Linked DNA regions of Homo sapiens. The protein of the gene in region 3 interacts with the protein of the main gene of each other region in a pairwise test. Each region holds a gene or a part of one and is shown on either strand. Other genes may lie near its edges.

Region 1 (4,052 bases), on a different chromosome or scaffold from region 3:
AACACAGACTAATACACTACTCTTCTTTGTTTCCAAGTTTTCTTGATAATTAATTATGTGATCTTCCATATAAAACTTAAAATTAATTAGTTCTAAAACACATATCCCCAAGAGAATTTGGGACTCTCATGAGAATTGCACTAATTTTGTAATTTGACTTGGGAAGAATTGACAGTATTTTTGATACTGACTACTCACCTAAGAATACAGCATGTTTTACATTTACTAGGGCCTTATTACTGCCTTTTCAGTAAAGGTTTATAATAAAGATTGTGTAACTTGTTAAAGTTTATCCCTAAGTATTTTATGGTTTCTGTTGCCATTGTGGAGGAAATATTATTTCATTTTTAATATGTTTTTGCTTATTCAAATAATTCTAATTTTTCTTCTACTTACTTAAGCTTTATTATTGCACTCAATTTTAAAATTGAGGCACCTAGATTTTCAAGGGTTCCTGTCATCTGCAAATATTAACATTGCCTTTTCCTTTTAGGTCTTAACAATGACACAGTTTGTTGTGCCACATAGGGACGAAGCTTTTCGTGGCTAGGGTTGAGGAGGGCTTGCTGGTTATGTGCAAGGGCTTTGCACAATATGATCTAGGTTCACGTCCCTGCTCTGTCACCTACTGGTTGTGTGACCCTTATTTAACCTCTGTGGACCTCAGGGTCCTCATCTCTGAAACGTGGATAATAGTAGTACTTAATTCAGAATTGTAAGAATTAAGCACTTGTTAATACATTAAAGCATTTAGAAGGCACATTAAGCCCTATAGTAAGCATTAGGTTACATTCATCAAAACCTGCTGCCTACTTACCTCCTGCAAGTCTCATAAGCACTTCAGAAAGTGTGGTGTCTCCATTCTACGAATGAGGAAACTAAGTCCAAGGCAGCAAGTGATGAGTGCAGGGTCACTTGGAGATACATTTTAGGGCTGCCCCACAAGACCAGCTCCTAGAAAATAATGCAATCAATCAACTTCTGCGAGGCCGGACTTAAATCCCACTAAAACGTGCTTAATTCATTCAACAGGCGTTGGCATCTTACCAGGGAGGAAAAAAAAAAAAAGAGTACGCCAAGGCGAAAAGGAGAGTCTCCATCTATTGCGTCTCAGGCTTCCGCCAAGACTGGCGGAAAAAAACGAGTCCGCTCCGAAGCGCTCGCCTGCCTTCGGCAAAAATCGTCAGGAGGCGGGGCCCACGCTTCGGCACGTTTCGCGCAGGGCATTGTGGGAAGGGCGGCCGGTGCAGCCGCAGCTGCCATCTTAGGGGCGCCTGGCGCTACGGGTTTCTCGTTGGAGGCGGCCTTCGTGGCAGCTGTAGACGCCGGGAAAAGGCATAAAGTCCGTTGGCCGACACCTTTCTTTCCTCCGGCCTCGGTAGAACCGCCAGCCCGCGTCCGAAGGCGGAGGCGAGGGGAACTGGCCGCGTGAGGGGCCTGAGGCGAGCGGTTAGAGCGTCTCCCGGAAGGATGGGCCGGTCTCGGAGCCGGAGCTCGTCCCGCTCCAAGCACACCAAGAGCAGCAAGCACAACAAGAAGCGCAGCCGGTCCCGGTCGCGATCCCGGGACAAGGAGCGCGTGCGGAAGCGTTCCAAATCTCGGGAAAGTAAACGGAACCGGCGGCGGGAGTCGCGGTCCCGTTCGCGCTCCACCAACACGGCCGTGTCCCGGCGCGAGCGGGACCGGGAGCGCGCCTCGTCCCCGCCCGACCGCATCGACATCTTCGGGCGCACGGTGAGCAAGCGCAGCAGCCTGGACGAGAAGCAGAAGCGAGAGGAGGAGGAGAAGAAAGCGGAGTTCGAGCGGCAGCGAAAAATGTGAGTGCCCGCGCGGGGAGGGACCGGGGCGTGCGGAGAGCAGGGCGCGGGGCGAGGGCGTGGGGCCGGGGCGGGACGGTGCGGGCCGGGAGAATGGCGGGGACGGTCCGGGGCTGGGGACCGGGCGCGGGAACGGGTCGGAGAGGCGGCGGCGGGGCGGGCAGGCTTGGCGTTTGGAAAGCTTGGGGTGGGACAGACCCAGAAGTTGTTCGGGATGGAAAATTCGAGGGCTTGAGCAGAAAGGGTTTAAGAGAAGGCGATTTTGGCGCGAGAGAGGAGTGGTGTCCCGGAAGTAGGGGTGGAGTTCGGAGTGAGGTCGGAGAGCTGCGTTGGCTTGTGAGGCCGGGAGCGAGCCGGCCTGCAGATGTGGAGGGTGGTGAGCGTTTGCTGGTCGGCTTGAGGAGGAGAGAGAAGGGAATTAACCTTTGAGATGCGAATCACAGCTGGCCAGAAGCATTCTATTGAAGCTCAAATTTGGGACAGGACTTAACTAATCTCGGGAATCATACACTTTAGGTGGTCCGCCAGAAAAATGCATTTTCACTTTAGTGTATTCCTGTTGTTAAGGTGTTGGGATTGCTTTTTTCCCCTTGAGCCTACACCCTCACCCCTTCCTTGAGATGTTAAAAAAAAAAAGCATAGACCTTAAGTGTACAGTGCGATGAGTTTTTTGACCTTTGAATTCACCTGTGTAATCACCATCCCAAAGCCTACCGCTTTTTTAACTTGCTTTCTATTCCTGTAGCAAACACGTGCAGTTTTGTTGTTTCCCTTACACTGTGCTTCTTCAGAAGACACTTGAAGGGTTGATTTTATTTTGGCGTTGCTCCCATGAAGGATATTTAGTGAAAACTAGAGTTAGAGTGTGTTTCCGAAAATGTCAGCTCTCAAGTATTTCTGGCTATGAAAGTAGATGTGGATAAATAATCCCAAACTAAAGGAATTTTTGGGTTTTAAAATTTAGGGATTTGTTGTGTGTTTTGCTTTATGATCATCGTACTTTGATGCTCTGGGTATTCAGTTTCCAAAAACCGCATTGAAAAGTAGATTTGAACAGTCCTACTAACTCCCTATTGAACCAGCCGTACTTGGTCAGTTCTTCAGTGAATATTTAGAAAGTGCTCATGAAGCAAGAACGTTACTGAATTTATGATTTTCTCGAGGCGAGTATATGTGTGCTGAATTGACTGCGTGGTTTGTAGTTTTCTGTAGTTGGGTTTGTGTTAGGTAGATTTTCCAGCACACACACACAGCTTGTTTCTAAAACCAAAGTTACTAAAAGGTAGGACTGGAGCACTAATATTACAGAGGAAGCTGTACCTGGAGCTGTTTTGCTTCCAACACTCCTTTAAAACACATGCAACACTCATTTTTCCTGTACTTAGAACTGTCAGTGATACATATGAAAACAAAGTTCAAGTAATCGTTTCAAATTAAACCTTGATTTTGTAGAATACAACTTTTGGGTCTGCAACAAGGCCCTTAGCTGTAAAGATCTCAAATAGCTATCAACAGATGGATGTATGAAAAGTTACCTAAGACATTGCTGAGATAATTTCTACATGTGAAAACAAAGGAGACCTCCAAAGAGTAATAACTTGCCTTTCACTAGAAAGCTAAGATATGTAGGAAAAATGAAAAGAAACTTGGTATGCAAAGAATAAATAGAAGCATTTAGCAGGTTTCGCATGTATAGCAGACAAGAAATTCAGGAATGAAATACGGCAAATAGAGGAGCTATATGGTTCTCTGGTTTGAGAGAAGACACAAACTGCCAATAGTATTTAGGAGGGAGAAGGGACCAGGACTAGCAGCCACCTGTACTCTAAATTCCTGGGTGCCGTACAATAGGCATTTTATTTAATATATTCTAATGTCTTGGAAACAATGCAAAAGAAACAATGGAAAGACTTAAGTGTTGGAGCTTTGGCAGTGTAAGGAAACAGTTTGCAGTCTACATATCCTGTTGGTTATTTTATTCATTTAACTGATGTTTATTGAGCATTTAATAAGTGCCAGGCACTGTGCTAGGTACTGTTAATATAAAGATGATTGGCCCTTCTCCAAGAGCTTGATCTAGCTCAAAGACAGATCATTAAATAGGCAATAATACAGTGTAGTAAATTTAGTGACAGTAATATAAACTGTATAAAGGAAGTATCCTGTGTGGGTGGAGGATATAAGAATATGACAATGTCAGGCAAGGTATAGGACATATGTGGAGCACAGAAAAGA
Region 2 (3,500 bases), about 36 Mb from region 3:
CGGGGGCCCTAGTCCTGCTCTCAGGGTGGTGAGCTGGCCAATTTCATGATGCTGCTCCCCACCAGACTCAGGGCTCTTCCTGAAGCTGTCACACACCAGCCTTGCCCCATCCCCTGCCTTGCTGTGGGTGCTTCTGCACTGTAGGTCCTCTGGACACCAAAGTGTGGGCTAGAATGGCTGGTCTCCAGGTCCTCACCTGGCCCCCTTGTCAGTGCCCCAGGGGATTCCCGGCCTTCTCCAGTGGGCAGCAATGCCTGTGCAAGGAATGGGACCCCTGTCTGTAGGTTGGTCGCCTACAGGTGTGCAGTGTGATATGCCAGGTGGGTAAATCGTCACCCGTGGAGCTTCTGCCCATGTCTCTGATTTTGGGGTTTACCGACCAGAGCCCATTGTTGCTGGTGAGACAGCTGGTCTTCGACCTCTGTCAGGTTTCCCAGGGAACAGCTAAGAAAAGTTAACCCAAGGCCAAATTCATCCTAGAATGAGGAAGGCTGGTTTGAGTCCCTTCCCCATCAGGTGTCAGGCTGAGAACACCCAGTAGGCTGGCCCCTGGCCAGTCAGCCTGGCCACAGACCTCCAAGGGAATGGTTGTAAACTGGGATTCGGGGACTCGGGTCTTACCCGGCAGAACTGACGTTCTGTCCCCAGAACTGTCCCCAGTCTGTGGGTGCAGCGCGACCGAGATGCCTCCAGCCACAGCGGCCCACTTCAGAGCCCCAGGCTGCTGCTTTTCTGGCTGGGGGACCACAACGAGTCCTTTTGCTCTTTGCCTCACTGTCCCCATCTGTAAAATCAGGGTGGCCTCCTCTGAGCCCCTGAGTTCTGGAAGTCAAGGACCCAGCTCCCCCGGGGCCCACAGCACCTAGGTTAGGTCGGAAGCCGGGAGAGGTGCCCTGCAGATCCCGAGTGCGCATATCCTTCCTTCTATACCAGACGCCCCGACCAGTGCGCCCAGCGCCCCTCCCAGCACACCCACCCCCAGCGCTGGGAAGAGGTCCCTGCTCATCAGCAGGCGGACAGGCCTGGGGCTGGCCAGCCTGCCGGGCCCTGTGAAGAGCTACTCCCACGCCAAGCAGCTGCCCGTGGCGCACCGCCCGAGTGTCTTCCAGTCCCCTGACGAGGACGAGGAGGAGGACTATGAGCAGTGGCTGGAGATCAAAGGTAAGTTGTGGGAGCTGCTGCTCCCCCACCACCAGTGCCCGTGCTCTAGCAGGTGGGATCTGTGGTGGGCAGGGCAAGTGCTGCCAGGGGCATGGGTGCTTTCGGCTGAGTTGCAGCCACCAGACCTCTGAGCTGAGCCTCAGGCCCTCTGAGGTGAGGAGAGCAAAGGAGGGTGAGGGGCGGGGCTGGGGTGTTGCTGGGCATCAGCGCGTGGGCTTCATCTTGGGAGCAGCGGGATCCATCTTCCACTCACACAGCGGCTCATCCCAGCCAAGGCAGGGGCGCACGCCCTTCTCGCATTTGCTCCAAAAGGGCATCCTCACATCCCTTCTAGGAGGAGCTTCTAAGGCTCTTCCGCTGAGCCCTTGAGGCCCCAAAGCACTGCCCCTCACCATGGGTTACCTGTCCCCTGAGTTTAGGCCAGAGGTATGAGCTGCAGGTTGGAGGGTGCTCTCTTCTATCCCTGGGAAAGGACGGTCACTGGTCACGGGTGAGCTTGTCCAGACCGCCCAGTGTAGGAGGGCAAAGGGGGGTGGCTGTGGTGACAGCATTGCCAGCAAGTCCAGCCCTGTCCACATTCAGGACGAGTCCCTGTGACACCTGAACTGTGTGAAGGGCTAGCCGGTGAGGTCACATCACCCTGACAGCACAGACTGAAGCGACTGTGGAGTTGTGCCATGACAGCCTTGAGATCCCTTGCTTCTGGCTGTGTGTCCGAGCGGATCAGAGGCCAGCTTGGCCCCCGGGCCATTAGAATGGAGCTGGCGTGTGTCCTTTCCTTAAAGGGGTGCCCCAGCAGCTCCAAGGGTACCCTGTTGGGAACTGCTGCATTACAAGGGGTATTGGCCATCTCGGGGCCCTTGAAGCCCATTATGACCCACTGTCTGCATGGCCTCAGAAACGCACCTGTTCCTGTAAACAGCAACCAGGTCAGGATTGTTGCTGGGCCCATGGCAGGAGGGCGACCTAGGGTGAAAGACAGTCACGGAATGCTCTCGGGACCTCACAGGGGCCCTCGTTGGGCTACACACTCCCCACCTCTCCCCCATTCCCAGCAGCCCAAGCAACAAGGGGAATAAGATTAGCCACAGGTCTGGCATGTTGCCCAGTTGCCAGGCACTTGCTGGCAGCGAGAAATTTCTCTTGTGCATCTCCTACAAGGACTGCAGTCTGTGTAGTAGCTGACAAACTCACAGCCTCAGAAACAGGCCAAGGGAAAAATGCAAAAGCAAGTTCCACATGGCTCAGTGGGGAGGCTAATCCGTATATAAAAATATATCTTTATAGCTCTGTTCACTGAAAAGGCCCCGAAATAATGATTAAGCCTGTGGCATTGAGCATCCCTAGCTCCCAGATGCTGGTCTGGAGATGCAGTTTCTCATGGAAACCGACTTCTTGGAGAAGTGGCTGGCTCTGGGTCTGGGCAGGAAGTGTATGAGATGATCTTGGAGCGCCTGTCCTGGCAGATGGCAAGGAGGCCATCAGAGACTCCTGGGGCCATGTCCAGAGCCCTCAGGAGCCAGCTTGAAGAGGTTCCACCGGCCGCAGAGCTTCTATGATGACACTAGTTGCCATGGATCGAAACCCACCCAGTGTGTTTAAATCAGAGCTCATAATGGTATTTTTTAAAAAAGAACGTGTCATCTTTGAAGGATGAAAGGGAACCGATGTATTATGCTGAAAACTGGTAAAGAAAGAAAAGAATTAAGCATTTCCCCCACCAAAACCAGGGGAAGCTGGATATATTTTCTGCTAGCTTCCAGCCTGGAGCTCACCACAGCCTCACACACTTCTCTCCCACCTAGTGTGTCTCACCAAGACAGTGAGACCGACTCCCCCCTCGTCATGGTGTTTTGTGCCTGGACTCGGGACGCCCGACAGCCTCCTGCATCTCACACTCTTCTCCCCCCACCCCCTCTGTCGTTGTGGTCCATAGAGAGAGTGTGCCTATTGACTGTGGGGTGTGTGAGTTGAACCCCAGTACTGACAGCCTCCTTAAAGTTTCACCCCCAGAGGGAGCCGAGACTCGGAAAGTGATAGAGAAATTGGCCCGCTTTGTGGCAGAAGGAGGCCCCGAGTTAGAAAAAGTAGCTATGGAGGACTACAAGGATAACCCAGCATTTGCGTGAGTATCTCCGGGGAAGGGAAGGCTGTGCTGTTGAATGCGTTTGCTGCACAGTCGCACGTGTGGGGCTGGGTGCTTGCTAGTGTGGGCCGGATGCTGTTCCAAGCGTTTTCTGATTCTCACCAGAAGTGACAAGTGGCTCCCATGTGGCACGGAGACTTGCTTTCGGGTCCCTGCTCGCCAGCCTGCCTTTTTTTGCACGATAGAAGCTGCA
Region 3 (4,912 bases):
GGGTTTTGGTAAATTCAGCTAACCTTTTGGAGCCTGTAATATATGTTGACATGCTCCCAATCGACATGGACTTTTTACGTATGGGTGCGTTTCCCCGATCAAGCTGCAGAATGTCTTCCCCACGTCTCTTCCTGGTGAATCCACTGCGTTTTCATTCATTTTAAGTCCCATGAGTGGCCCGCCACTTGCTGGTGCTTAGTGTGTGTCAGGCGCTGTCCTAAGTGCCCTCCATGCACGGCAGTTCTACGACACAGGGATTGGCGCTGTCCTAAGTGCCCTCCATGGACGGCAGTTCTACGACACAGGGATTGGCGCTGTCCTAAGTGCCCTCCATGCACGGCAGTTCTACGACACAGGGATTGGCGCTGTCCTAAGTGCCCTCCATGGACGGCAGTTCTACGACACAGGGATTGGCGCTGTCCTAAGTGCCCTCCATGGACGGCAGTTCTACGACACAGGGATTGGCGCTGTCCTAAGTGCCCTCCATGGACGGCAGTTCTACGACACAGGGATTGGCGCTGTCCTAAGTGCCCTCCATGCACGGCAGTTCTACGACACAGGGATTGGCAGGTTACAACTGAGAGTCCAACGCTGGCCCACTGCCTGTTTTTTGTTTTTTTGTTGTGTTTTTTGAGACGGAGTCTTGCTGTGTTGCCCAGGCTGGAGTGCAGTGGTGTGATCTCGGCTCACTGCAACCTCCGCCTCCCAGGTTCAAGCGATTCTCCTGCCTCAGCCTCCCGAGTAGCTGGGATTACAGGCATGTGCCACCACACCTGCTAATTTTTTGTGTTTTTAGTAGAGATGGGGTTTCACCATGTTGGCCAGGCTGGTCTCAAACTCCTGACTTTGTGACCTGCCTTGGCCTCCCAAAGTGTTGGGATTATAGGCGTGAGCCACTGCTCCCGGCCACTGCCTGTTTTTGTAAGTAAAGATGGATGGCGGTGCAGCTGGCCTCACTGTGCAGCGCCTCCTTCCTGGGTAGGGACGTGTGGTGGGCCTTGGGGAATAGGAACCGTGGGTTATGGATCTAAGGTTGCTTCTCTTACCAGGCTGAGGAGCTTGACTCTTCTGAAGGTGATGGGGTGCTCTGGCAGGGGCTGAGCTGAGGGCAACCCAGTGATAGTGGCTGCCGAGCTCCTCTCAGGCGCCCCCTGCACCAAGATGGCCTGGTCACCATGGGAGGGGACATTGCTCCATCTTACAGATGAGGAAAGAGCTTCGGGACAATGGGGATCCCTGCTGGGTCTTCCCCACACAGCCTCTGCTCCAGGTGTGATGCTTTGTAGATGCAGCCGCTGCAGAGGTATGGGGCCCTGTTTCCCCGCCCAACTCTTGGAACATCCCTGCCAAGCAGGGCTTGTCCTCAGTGATGAGTGGAGGAACTCAAGACTCCGAGAAGATTCCTTTGAAGTTGTTGTCATGTAACAGCGGCTGACCCCACTGACAGTGCTCACAGTGTGTGTCTGGGCTGGGTGGGTCCTGTTGTGGGCATTGAGTCTGGCAGATGCCCGGGCCATGGGGACTGCCGTGCCTGTTCTCACGTCCTCGATTGAATCAGCACTTGGCCTGAGCTGTTCTCACACACGTGGCTCACACGATGGGCACCAGGGTTCTTCCCATTCTACAGATGAAGACACTGAGGCCCTTGGAGGCTCATATGGTACAAACAAGACTTGAACCCAAGGAGCCATGAACCCAGGGAGCCCAACTCTTGTATCCTTGGCTCTGTGTTGCTCAAGTGAGACGGGCAGAGCCAGGGCTCGCGGCTGAGCTTCCAGTGTGACCCATTCTTCCTTGGACCCAGGCAGAGCCTGCAGCCTGCCATGCTGCCTGTGGGGAGTCACAGCTGAGTGTGGGCTCTGGAGGCTGCCTTTTTCCTGCCTGTGTGTCTTTGCTCTGTGCCTCAGTTTTTGCCTTCTGTGCTGTATGTATAGCATTGCAGTAGGAGGTTGAAAGTCTTACAGGATGCCTGGCCCATGGGGTGAGTGCCCGGTGTGTGTTCCTGCTCCCGGGCTGCTGCTACTTGTCCCTGTAGCATAGGAGCTGGGTCTCCTGGGGTCTGTGTGGCCCCAGTCTGGTGGTTGGAGCTGGCTGGGTTGGTGCTTCCAGTTCTGTGGGGGCAGCGTCATCATGGGCTGGAAGGGCTTGAGTGAGTAGGTGGGAGAGGGTGTGTGGGGGCATCTCCCCTCCTTCCATGGGCACAGCGGCTCATGCTTCTGAGGCTCTTTCCCATTTCCTGTCTTACCTATTCCTTCCCAGCATCAGGATGGAGGTGGGATGGGGCCACTCACACTTGGTGTGGAGGCTGCAGAGGAAGGGGAGGCCATATGGCCTAGGTTTTGAACTTGGGAGTCAGGCTGGTTGGTTACCGGGGCCTGGCATAGCTGATATCTGACAGGACGGCGTCAAGTTACATTGGCAGAGCCTGTGGGGTCTCAGGTTGAATCATCCCACCAGCAGGCACTTGTCTGTGAGTCCAGAGTTCAGTGGATAGGGCAGGATCGAGGGCCAGTAAATTCAGCTGATAAGCCCCCACTCTGGTATGTCAGCCCTCGAAGACACTGGATCCTGCATCCCACAGTCAGCCCACAGTTCCCAGTGAGATCAGAGCAGCTAATGCTGCGGATGCTGTTCTGAGACTTCCCGGGCAGCCGCGGCTGCTCATCGTGTCGTGCCACCCCTGTGAGGGCAGTTGCACCCCTGCAGTGGCACCTGCAGTTCTGACAGGGCGTGAAGGGAAGGGACTGAGCTTTTTTTTTTTTTTCCTTTGAGATGGAGTCTCACTCTGTTGCTCAGGCTGGAGTGCAGTGGAGTGATCTCGGCTCACTGCAACCTCCGCCTCCTGGGTTCACGCCATTCTTCTGCCTCAGCCTCCTGAGTAGCTGGGACTACAGGTGCACGCTACCACAGCCCGCTAATTTTTGTGTTTTTAGAGAGACGGGGTTTCACCATGTTGGACAGGATGGTCTTATCTCTTGACCTTGTGATCTGCCCGCCTTGGCCTCCCAAAGTGCTGAGATTACAGGCGTGAGCCCCCGCGCCCGGCCGGGACTGAGCTTTAATGGGAGCCTTGCCTGGGTGGCTGTCAGAGAAGGGGTGGGGTGTGTTGTGACTCACCAGTAGGTCCCGAGCCCAGGTGACCTGCCAGCATTCCACAGCAGCAGGTAGCAGATGTGGGTGTGAACTTTGTGCCTTTGGAGCGTTCTGGAGGATGTTCTAGTTTGAGGTTCCCCTGAGGCTGGGCAGATTTGGGAGACATGGTGCGTTCTCCCCGAGGAGCCTCTGTGTGCCACTGCCCAGGACCCTCACTGGTCAGATAAGGCTGGGGTGGGGTGGGCACGTGGCGACCCCTCCCTCGTCAGATCAGGCAGGAAGTGTTCTCTTTGGCAATTGAGGAGCTCGCCGTAGACTGTCCAGGTTTTGGGAGATAACCTGGTACTGGAATTGAAGTCCTCCTCTTCTCTACCCATAGGGGTTGTGTCCACTGTGGTCCCCGACTCTGCCCACAAGCTGTTCATCGGGGGCTTACCCAACTACCTGAACGATGACCAGGTAACTTCCCTGCCTCCCTCCAGACCCGTCCCCCCACCCCGCCCCACCTCATCCCAGCCCTGATGGACTCTCGGCTACTGCAGGTCAAAGAGCTGCTGACATCCTTTGGGCCCCTCAAGGCCTTCAACCTGGTCAAGGACAGTGCCACGGGGCTCTCCAAGGGCTACGCCTTCTGTGAGTACGTGGACATCAACGTCACGGATCAGGTGAGTCCCCGGTCGCTGGCCGCTGCCGCGTCTGTCCTTCCCTGCCCTGCGCTGTTGCCAAGCCATGGTCTCCCCTCCTCAGGGGACGGGGCGGGAGGCGGCCAACCTGAGGCAGTGCCCTGTGTGTGGGCTCGTCCCTGTCCCATGGCGTTGGCTTTTTCCAGGCTCTTAATCCCCTTTGCCTTCCCCTCTTCCCCCACCAATGCCCCGGCTTGGGGGTAGGTGTCGGGCTCCTGGTCCCTGACCCCACCTCTCCCCGCACCCCCCGACCCCTCATCCTCCAAACACAGGCCATTGCGGGGCTGAACGGCATGCAGCTGGGGGATAAGAAGCTGCTGGTCCAGAGGGCGAGTGTGGGAGCCAAGAATGCCACGCTGGTGAGCCCCCCGGCACGTCATCTTCCATTGGCTTGAGGGACCCTGGGGGTGGGAGGGGCTGGCTAGTAGGGGACAAGTGTTCCTGATCTTTCTCCCAGCTTTCATGGGAAGGCATTTGGGGGGCATTCAGTGCAGTGTTGGGGAGTCGGGCTTTAGGTGTTGGAAGTGGAGAGATGGCCTTTCCCCTGGGGGGGCATGTGAGGGGCCTAGGCTTGAGCAGAGGGAGACTGGGTCTGGGCCCCCTGTGACGCCGCTGCCTCCCCTGGCCCCACAGAGCACCATCAATCAGACGCCTGTGACCCTGCAAGTGCCGGGCTTGATGAGCTCCCAGGTGCAGATGGGCGGCCACCCGACTGAGGTCCTGTGCCTCATGAACATGGTGCTGCCTGAGGAGCTGCTGGACGACGAGGAGTATGAGGAGATCGTGGAGGACGTGCGGGACGAGTGCAGCAAGTACGGGCTTGTCAAGTCCATCGAGATCCCCCGGCCTGTGGACGGCGTCGAGGTGCCCGGCTGCGGAAAGGTCAGGAGGCCTCGGGCTCAGTGCTCTCTCACCCTCTGCCCCTCCTCTTCTCCGCGCCCTCTTTCTTCCTCTCTTGCTCCCTCACCCTCTCCCCCTCCTCTTCTCCGCGCGCTCTTTCTTCCTCTCTCTCTCCTCTCGCAGCGCGTGCGTATAGGTGTATGCCATCACTGAGTGCCGCCCTCAGGCCGGGCCATGGGAGATGTTGGTGACCCTGAGGGGTTTGTGGCCCTGTGGGGGCCCAAGACCTGCAGGCG
Region 4 (2,843 bases), 960 kb from region 3:
CCGAGCACCAGCGCACGCACACCGGGGAGAAGCCGTACGCCTGCAAGGAGTGCGGCAAGGCCTTCAACAAGAGCTCCTCGCTCACCCTGCACCAGAGGAACCACACCGGCGAGAAGCCCTACGTGTGCGGCGAGTGCGGCAAGGCCTTCAGCCAGAGCTCCTACCTCATCCAGCACCAGCGCTTCCACATCGGCGTGAAGCCGTTCGAGTGCAGCGAGTGCGGCAAGGCCTTCAGCAAGAACTCCTCGCTCACGCAGCACCAGCGCATCCACACCGGCGAGAAGCCCTACGAGTGCTACATCTGCAAGAAGCACTTCACGGGGCGCTCGTCCCTCATCGTGCACCAGATCGTGCACACCGGGGAGAAGCCCTACGTGTGCGGCGAGTGCGGCAAGGCCTTCAGCCAGAGCGCCTACCTCATCGAGCACCAGCGGATCCACACCGGCGAGAAGCCGTACAGGTGCGGCCAGTGCGGGAAGTCCTTCATCAAGAACTCCTCCCTCACTGTGCACCAGCGGATCCACACGGGCGAGAAGCCCTACCGATGCGGCGAGTGCGGGAAGACCTTCAGCCGCAACACGAACCTGACGCGCCACCTGCGGATTCACACCTGAGCGCCTCTGTGCAGGGCTCTCACTGGCGGTGCCCAGGACGGACGCCAGATGGCTGCGCGCTTTGTCAGCAGTGCTGTGAGAAGTTCTCCCCTGGGGTGGGGACTCGGGGTCAGGGGAGCTCAGGAATGTGGGGTTGTGGAGGGGCTGGCTGATCACACATGCCCCCTCCTTACTGAGCCTCAGAAAGCAAGCCCCTCGGTGTCTGACGTATCTGGGGACACTTCAAGGTTCACTGTAGCTGAGCCATGGCCGCTGGTAACAGACATCAGGGTTCCAGACTAGCCCTCTTGAGTAACTGTCCTAGAGCTGGGACAGGTCACGCCTGCCTCCACATCTCTGTTTCTTCAGCGGGAAAGTGGAGCTGGTGGAGGGGAGGGAGGAGACATCTCCCTCTTTGTCAGATACATCCTGGAGTCCAGATGCAGCTTGTCACCATCTGCATTTTCTCCGTGGGTTGGGAGCGTGAGGGCCTTCCTATCCCTCCACCCACCGTTTCCCTGCAGTGCACGCTGGCAGCCACCAAGCTAGGAAGTGGCAGGAGTTTGCCGGTTGTTTGTGAGGGGAAAAATTTTTTTTTCAGAGTTAGCAAATAACAGTAACTACTGCTTTGAATGCCAAAGTTTCTTAGAGTGGTCTGTTACGTTTTTTAAAAATAAAACTTTTAATTAAGGGAGACTATGTTATTTTAAACAGTCTTCTGTTTTGGCCAGTTGTCTGGTCAAAATCGGCTTCAGTGATTGTGGGAGGGGCAAGAAGGAAAAGAAACAGCAGCAGGTTTGATATTCAGAAAGAAATATGCATGGATTCAATAAGTATATACATCTGAGCACAGATTATTTTTATAGTGATTTTTGCAGCTAAATGTGAAGGCAACTGTCTTAAGTCCCTTCCTGCTGCTGTAACAAAAGACCTTAGACTGGGTAATTTATAAACAATAGAAATTTGTCACTCATGGTTCTGGATGCTGGGAAGTCCAAGATCAAGGCTCTGGCAGATTTGGTGTCTGATGGGGTATGTTCTTCATAGGTAGTGCTTGTGTCTTGATGTGTGTCTTCACGTGGTTGTAAACGGCAGACTTCCTCAGGCCCCTTATAAGGGTGCTAATCCCAGTCACAAGGGCCCTGACCTCATGACCTCCCAAAGGTCCTCCCTCTTCATACTGTTACATTGGGGATCAAGTTTCCAATATGTGAATACAGGGAAGCACCAACAGACCATATCAGTAACTTCGAGTGAGTTTCCTAAGGCCGACTGAAGCTCTGTTTACACATAAGAGTGTTCCCCAAAGTGCACTTTCTCTGGGGCCTTTTAGGCCATACTTTTAATTTTGTTATTTGATACTACTGGTTGCTAATGTTCTGGCATTTCCAGTTGTTCCACACTCCCTGACACTGGTGTACACAAATAAATAATACAGAAAAAAAATTATATCAGCAAGCACATTCTGCAAATAAGAAAAACAGCCACTCGGGCACGTATAAACAAGGTGGACCGTTTTTCAAATTCTGGCAGTCAAGTGGGCCTCAGGGTGGGTTTGATTCAGGCTCTCATCATTGGAGCCATAGCTGTGGTTCTCTGTGATGCTCTGGCTCTCCCTTCATACTTCTTAACATCATCCTCAGGCTGGCTTCCCACGTGGGATTGTGGTGGTTTCCAGCAGCGAGTCTTGATCAGACATTGCTTTAGTTGCATCTGTTGTGGGAATAAATGAGAATATGTATGCACTGCAGAGAATGGAGTGTTAAAACAGTCAACAAATGTTAGCTAATATGTACACAAGATTTTACTACTCTTTAGCAGCAAAATGGAGGGGAAGACCTTCTAAGGCCCTTTGGAGAGATGAAATGGCTCATTTAACCCTCACAAGATCCTCGAGGTAGGGATTCATGTGCATGTCGTATAGATAAGGAATCTGAGGTTCAGTGAGGCAAGGTAAGCTTCCTGAGGGCACACAACATGGAAGTGGAGGGGACAGGGTGTGAGCTGGGGTCCACCTGGGCTCCGAGGTCCGTGCTCCTTGCCTACACTGGACTACTTCTAGAGATGGACATATTGAATTTCTCAGGACTTGACTCCTGGCCTTGGTTTCCTGGACTCCCCAGTGTGTGAAGCAGAGATGGGATCGAGGCTGCACCACCACCATCCCCCTCTCCCATCCAGAGAACCAGCCGGGCCACCTCTCAGGTCCCTCCTGTTTCTTTTCTCTGCAACCCAAGCTGATGTGGAGGG

Evidence for each region. The genes of interacting proteins can lie anywhere in the genome.
Region 1: the proteins of U2AF2 (region 3) and ARGLU1 interact in binary tests that used the Homo sapiens proteins (3 or more experiments, as listed by UniProt).
Region 2: the proteins of U2AF2 (region 3) and SUGP1 interact in binary tests that used the Homo sapiens proteins (3 or more experiments, as listed by UniProt).
Region 4: the proteins of U2AF2 (region 3) and ZNF71 interact in binary tests that used the Homo sapiens proteins (3 or more experiments, as listed by UniProt).

The regions. Positions count from the first base shown.
Region 1 is NC_000013.11:106,565,338-106,569,389, reverse strand, and holds the start of ARGLU1 (arginine and glutamate-rich protein 1), read left to right. Parts: upstream 1-1,252; 5' UTR 1,253-1,470; coding exon 1,471-1,817; intron 1,818-4,052. UniProt on the Homo sapiens protein: Dual function regulator of gene expression; regulator of transcription and modulator of alternative splicing. General coactivator of nuclear receptor-induced gene expression, including genes activated by the glucocorticoid receptor NR3C1.
Region 2 is NC_000019.10:19,303,510-19,307,009, reverse strand, and holds part of SUGP1 (SURP and G-patch domain-containing protein 1), read left to right. Parts: intron 1-933; coding exon 934-1,161; intron 1,162-3,162; coding exon 3,163-3,286; intron 3,287-3,500.
Region 3 is NC_000019.10:55,665,035-55,669,946, forward strand, and holds part of U2AF2 (splicing factor U2AF 65 kDa subunit), read left to right. Parts: intron 1-3,472; coding exon 3,473-3,552; intron 3,553-3,635; coding exon 3,636-3,758; intron 3,759-4,048; coding exon 4,049-4,147; intron 4,148-4,409; coding exon 4,410-4,658; intron 4,659-4,912. UniProt on the Homo sapiens protein: Plays a role in pre-mRNA splicing and 3'-end processing. By recruiting PRPF19 and the PRP19C/Prp19 complex/NTC/Nineteen complex to the RNA polymerase II C-terminal domain (CTD), and thereby pre-mRNA, may couple transcription to splicing.
Region 4 is NC_000019.10:56,622,144-56,624,986, forward strand, and holds the end of ZNF71 (endothelial zinc finger protein induced by tumor necrosis factor alpha), read left to right. Parts: coding exon 1-614; 3' UTR 615-2,343; downstream 2,344-2,843. UniProt on the Homo sapiens protein: May be involved in transcriptional regulation.